Linked DNA regions of Homo sapiens. The protein of the gene in region 1 purifies or fractionates together with the protein of each later gene. This does not show direct contact. Each region holds a gene or a part of one and is shown on either strand. Other genes may lie near its edges.

The links.
Region 2: the proteins of TRIM3 (region 1) and KPNA4 purify together in Homo sapiens (affinity purification with western blotting; 2 studies listed by BioGRID, with this or other methods). This does not show direct contact.

What each region holds. Positions count from the first base shown.
Region 1 is NC_000011.10:6,467,247-6,471,096, reverse strand, and holds part of TRIM3 (tripartite motif-containing protein 3), read left to right. Parts: intron 1-3,573; exon of another isoform or gene 3,574-3,591; intron 3,592-3,850.
Region 2 is NC_000003.12:160,494,507-160,497,039, forward strand, and holds the end of KPNA4 (importin subunit alpha-3), read right to left. Parts: 3' UTR 501-2,533; downstream 1-500. UniProt on the Homo sapiens protein: Functions in nuclear protein import as an adapter protein for nuclear receptor KPNB1. Binds specifically and directly to substrates containing either a simple or bipartite NLS motif.

The DNA.
Region 1 (3,850 bases):
GGATCTAGTGGAGTCAGCACTGGCTGTCTTCATTTGTTCACAATCAGCTTCTTGCTTGACTCCCTGCATCTGGCTTCCTGTCCTCCATCCCCTGAAAACCACATGCTCTGAGGTTAATGAAAGCCTCTTTGGGGCTTAAATAATGGGACCTCTGCAGCATTTCACTCCCTTGTTCATGAAGTTCTCTTCTCCCTTGGCATTCATGACATCTGTTTCCTGATTCTCTTGCTTCTCTGGTTGTGCCTTCTCAATCTTCTTTGCAGACTCTGCTTCCTGGGCCTATCTCTTAAATATTGAGGTTCCTTGGGACTTGGTGATAGACCCTCCTTTCTCTCTTTACCCTCTCAGGGTAATGTCATCCACGCCCATGGCTTCAGGAACCATCTCTGCACCAACATCCACATTCATGTCTCCAGGCCAGACCTCTCTCTTAGGCTTCAGCGTATCTTTCCAACTGCCAACTGGACCTCTCCACTTGAATTACATCCCATAGGCACCTCAGATTCATCACATTAAACAGTGAACTCTAGCTGGGTGCTGTGGCTCATGCCTGCAACCCCCACGCTTTGGCAGGCCAAGGCAGGAGGATTAGTTGAGCCCAGGAGTTTGAGGCTACAGTGAGCTATGATCATAACACCACATTCCAGCCTGGACAACAGAGTAAGACCCTGTCTCTTAAAAAACAAAAACAAAACTGAAAAAACCTTAAAAGATAAACACCAAACTTATCACCCTCTCATCCAAACTGCTCTTCTTTGAGAGTTTCCAAAGAATCATCTGTTAATTCCTTCTTCTCCCCTAACTCTTCACATGTAAATACCCAGCCACCAAGTTCAGTTGATATCCCCCTGCAAAATTGATTTATCTTGGCCTGTCTTTGCTATTCTCCTAATCAAGGCAGTTTCTTAATTTTCCGTCCTTGCCCTTTAAACTATTTTCCACATAGCAGCCAAAAATGTACTTTTGTCACTCTATACTTAATAGCCCTCACCACTACCAAAGTTTTCCTTTGCTTTTTGGATAAATCCTTCATCCCCTAGCAGGTAAGCGTAAAGTCTAAACTCCTTAATAAGACCAACAAGGCATTGCATGATATATCTTTTGCCTACCTCTCCATCTTGTTTCTTAGCCCTCCCATCACAGTGTCTGATTCAGCCTCCTGATGCAAAAGGCACCATACTCTCTGTAACTCATCCTCAGCTTGAACGTTACTTTCTTTAGGAGTTACTAAAGTTACTTTCTTTAGGAGAAAGGTTGGCCTCCAACCTCTGGACCCACCCCTGCTCCAGATCTAGGTTAGGTAACCTTTGTACTCCTGGAGCAATTGGTGCTTCCTCATCATGGTCTTCACCACTTTACATTGCAGTAATCTATTTATTAGATTGTGGAATCCATGAAGGCTGAGCTGTGACTATTTGTCTTTGTGTCCCCAGGCCTAGCAGCAGTGTCAAGTGAATGCTGAATGAGGGAGTGAGGTGCCTTGAGAACTAAGCCATAAAGTATGGTGGGAATAACCAATACAGGGATAGCAGAAGGCAGTATGAGAAAGGAGAGTAAAGTCTGGCTCTGAGACCAAGGCCTTATAAGTGTCTGCTGTGATAAACAGTTCACTTGAACCACCACCTATAGGATCTTGGGGGCAAATCTCTAGAGCACAGTGGGATGGAAGAGCTAGGACCCCACGGGAGGAAGAGAATCTCAGATTCAGGCAGGGGTATGGCCTCAGCGGCTGCATGCCCAGTAAGTCTGGGAGGGGAACTGAAGCAGGAAGGGGAGGAGTGGGGGAGGAGCTATTGGTCCTTGGACATAGCCCAATCCCCGCCCCTGTGTGACAGTCTGGGAGAGCCCCTAGGCTTGGAGAGAGGTGGAGCCTGGCATCCAGCTACCCCAGCAGGACCCAGCAGACCACTCCCACTCTTCCTCCCAGCCTTTCCCTTCACCAGACAGAGGCTTCAGCTTGCCTCCCGCCTCCTGGTCCTTCCGCCAACCTTCAATCTGTCCTCCCTCCTGCTATGTTTTCCTGGTATTAAGTCTTCAGACTCCAGAACCCATTACAACTGTAGAGAGAACATCAGGATGCCAGTGTCTACATCAGCAGAGGATACTTTCAGGCATGCCCTTCACACTCTACCCAGGCCCACCCTTACACAAACATAAGGCACAGCAACTCAGCCCTTCTATCCCTCCCCAAATCTAGACTCGCTCCTGCATTCATTCATTCATTCATTCATTCATTCATTCACAGTCTTTAGAAAAAGGCTCATAATGCATCCAACAGCACAGACAATGGTGACCTGGTCCTATTCATTGCCTATTTTGGAGTAATCCAGCTGTTGTTCTGCCACCCTTCATGACCAAATCCCTGCCATGTATTGTCTACATCTGCTGTGTTAACTTCATCTCCCATTTACTCTTCAGTCACTCTGACGTGGCTTCTGCCCCTGCCACCCCACCACAGCCAAATCTAGTGGGCACTCTTCAGTCCGTTTCTTACTTCACCCCTTCTTTTTCTTGCACTGTTCTGTTGATTTCTTTGGTTTCACATTCTTTTGGTTTTCCTACCATTTCTCTGGGTTCTCTTTCTCAGAGTCACCTTTGCTGGCTCCCCTCTCTTGTGCCAGGCCCTTTTCTTATCACTGTCTGCCCTCTGTCCCTAGGTGGGCTCATGTCTTCTCATTGCTGAAAGTGCCATTTATATGCTAGTGATCCCAAATCAATAACCAGTCCAGACTTTTCTCTTGAGCTCCTGTATTCTGTTTCTTACTTGACAGCTCTACCTGGACATCAGAGAGACACATTGTACTTAGCATACATAGAACAGAATGCCCCAAATCAGCTCCACCTCAGCTTTCACTGTCTCTATTCATGGCCCATCACTTGCTAAAATGAGAAAGCTAAGTCATAATTGACATCCCTCTCACACCCAGTTCATCTTGATGTCCTTTGGATTTCTCTTTTATTATTTATTTTATTTTTATAGAGATGGGGTCTCATTATGTTGCCCAGACTGATCTCGAACTCCTGAGCTCAAGTGAACCTCCTTCCTCAGCCTCTCGAAGTGCTGGGATTACAGATGTGAGCCACCTTGCTCGGCCAATGAATATTTCTCAAATCAGTCCAGCTTTTTGCTTGTAGCTCAGATGATACCCTACATTATCTTACCCAAAGAACTTTGGTAGCTTCCTAACTGTTTTCTCTGATTCCACTCTGGCTTCTCTTTGTCTTCAATTCTCACAGCTTGCCAGAGTAGCTTTCTAATTTATTTTCACTTATTTATAAACCACATCATCCCCCCCTCCAACTTAGGATAAAATCACTTTTTTTTTTTGAGACAGAATCTCAACTTTGTCTCATGCCAGGCTAGAGTGCAGTGGCACGATTATGGCTCACTGCAGCCTCGACCTCCTGGGCTCAAGCAATCCTCCCACCTCAGCCTCCCAAGTAGCCTGGACTACAGGTGTGTGCCACCATGCCTAGATGATTTTTAATTTTTTTGTAGATATTGGTCTCATTATGTTGCCCAGGCTGATCTCCAATTCCTGGGCTCAAACGATCTTCCTGCTTTGGCCTCTGAAAGTGCTAGTATTACAGGTATGAGCCACTGCACCCAGCCAAAATCACATTCTTAATGGCGGTTATAAGGTCCTTCATGATCTCATCTCTACCTATCTTCCCAAACTCACCTCTTCCTTTTATTGACTTGGCTCCAACCACACAGTCCTTTCAGGTTCTCCATGAGCCTTCTGCCTAAGAACCTTTATCATGCTGTTTCTTCAGCCTAGAATGATTTCCCTTCCTGACTCCCTGTTGTTTCTCACCCTCACCCATACCATTTTTCTCCCATCCACCC
Region 2 (2,533 bases), on another chromosome or scaffold:
GAAACTGAAGCACATAGGGATAAAATAACTTCACATACATAAATAAACCAAAGCATTCTAATAATTTCATACTATAGCTGACTGACCAAAACAGCAATCACTTAACTTTGTGGTTTGGATATTTCCTTGTAAAATATCTTATTATAAGTTATTTCAATAAATCATCCATACAGTATTTCCAAAATATAAACTGTATCAATAGTGTTAGACAATATTAGGTTACCTCTGCTTCATAATATATATAACTGGTATCTGAAAACCACACAAGGATCCATTTCAATACCCTTATGGATGTCAGATATCCAGACCAGACACTGGGCAAAATATCAAAAGTGAGGAAAAGGAAATAAGGAAATGGGCATTCATCTGGCAAGCTATGAAGTATCTTCCCTTTCTATCGAAGGCTTTCTAAAACTCAGATGCAATGAGACAAATTTAAAAACTGTAGATTGAAGGCTTTTAGAGGTAGTCACTACAATCAGTTCATCTGAGAAATTGCATCATTATCACAAGCATTTATTGAGTACCCATAGAACTCATGGTACCTTCACGGTGTTTACAGAACTTTGCTTATATGCCGACCTTGCCCTTAAGGAGCTTACAATCTAGTGGAAAGAAAGACGGAGAAACTCAGATGTGATAGAGCAATGAGTGAACAGATACTATAGACTGAAAAATAACCATAAATGTAAAACACATACTGAAAAATGAGGGTTAATGGGGATGGCAAGGATGATAGGTAGGCCTGGATATACTCCTGACTTCTTGAAGGAGTAAATATCTAGAATATTCAAGGACGTAAAGTGCGGTTGAGAAAGCCAGGATGCAAACAAACATTTCCTATCTGCTGTGTATTTTCTTGCTCCCTGCAGCTGAGAATTGCAAAAAGAAAACAGGGATAGAGATAATGGGTAAAAACTTTTTAGTATTCTTTTAGTACTTCTGTTTCTGAATTAGACCGAACAGTCACCATGTAGGTAACTTAGCTATCCTAGATCATCCTAAACTGGTTAAAAGGAAGATTTTAAAAACTAGCTTGTCTATATGAGTTCTATAAACATATGTAATTTTACCTTAACTAAAAGGTTAGGATGACTAGGACTGCCACTATGCTAAAGACCACTCAACTGAATATAATACTGACATGGCAGAAGTGCGAGTTTTATCAGTGATACACATTGTGTACTGCATTGGGGGCTTACTAGATGTGTGGCGGAATATACCCATTTATGAAGGCAGCACATCGGCAAGTAAAAATGTAAGTGAAGGTAGGAAATACCTAGAATACATGATGTTTTATGCAGCTGAACAGGACAACCCTGAAAAGACAAGAATTATGGTAATACCAAAGTGACTAAGGTTGTCTTGATTCCCCGCCCCCACCACAATTATGAATCAAAAGATGGAGTCTTTTTTTTTTTTTTTTTAAGGTAAATACCCTCTTTAGCTGAGTCCAAGACTTTGGATATTAGATTACTGTACCTAAAAAGAGTAAAATGGTGGCCAGGCGGTGGCTCACGCCTGCAATCCCAGCACTTTGGGAGGCCAAGGAGGGTGGATCATCTGAGGTCAGGAGTTCGAGACCAGCCTGGCCAACGTGGTGAAACCCCATCTCTACTAAAAATACAAAAATTAGCCGGGCGTGGTGGTGCACGCTTGTGGTCCCAGCTACTCAGGAGGCTGAGGCAGGAGAATCGCTTGAACCTAGGAGGTGGAGGTTGCAGTGAGCCAAGATGGCACCACTGCATTCCTGCCTGGGCAACAAGAAAGAGTAAAATGGTAACTATGCACAAAGGATGGGGGAAAGGTGGCTCACAGGGCTTAAACATCAGAGGAATGGAGAGGACAGGACAGTGAGGGAATTATCTGGAAGGTAGGTAACTGGATTGAGAACCACAAAAAGCATGTAGATTTAAGCAGATTACGAGTCATTTTAAACAGCTGTTTCAAAGTAAGAGTAAAAACAGGCTGGAGAAAATCTTGGGTAATATTAGAGTAACATAGTCTAGGATAGGAATCCATCAGTTATGGAGATCAGAGGTAAGATATAGTCAGGGAAATTAGGATTCATGCTTGAAGAGTAATAGAAAAACCTAAGTGAAACAGGTTATTGGAATTTTCTTTATGAAGAATAAAAGTGGAAGAACTGATAGTCTGGAAAGGTGAAGTAATCTGGAGTAGGCAGCTACAAAAGGTATAAAATTTGTGGAGAAGGCAAAAATTGGGGCAGAAAATATAAATAACAAGGGAGTACTGCAGTCCTCTGGTGGGAGGTAGATCATAAAGAATCTGTAGAACCATTTACTTTTCCTCACAGTCAACTGCTCTTACACCCAGAGCAGTAGCTGTCAAGTCAATTTTATTGAAAATACACTGGACTTGGACATCCTGAGTCAAACTGCCATCACCTAAAGGGCCTGGATTTAAAAGGAATTTTCAAGATTATTGTTAACTTCTGGGTTAAGTGTTTAGGGAAAAAAATGTTAAATCTACTTTTCTTATACATGATTGGTGTGCTTAGTTTTTTATCAAT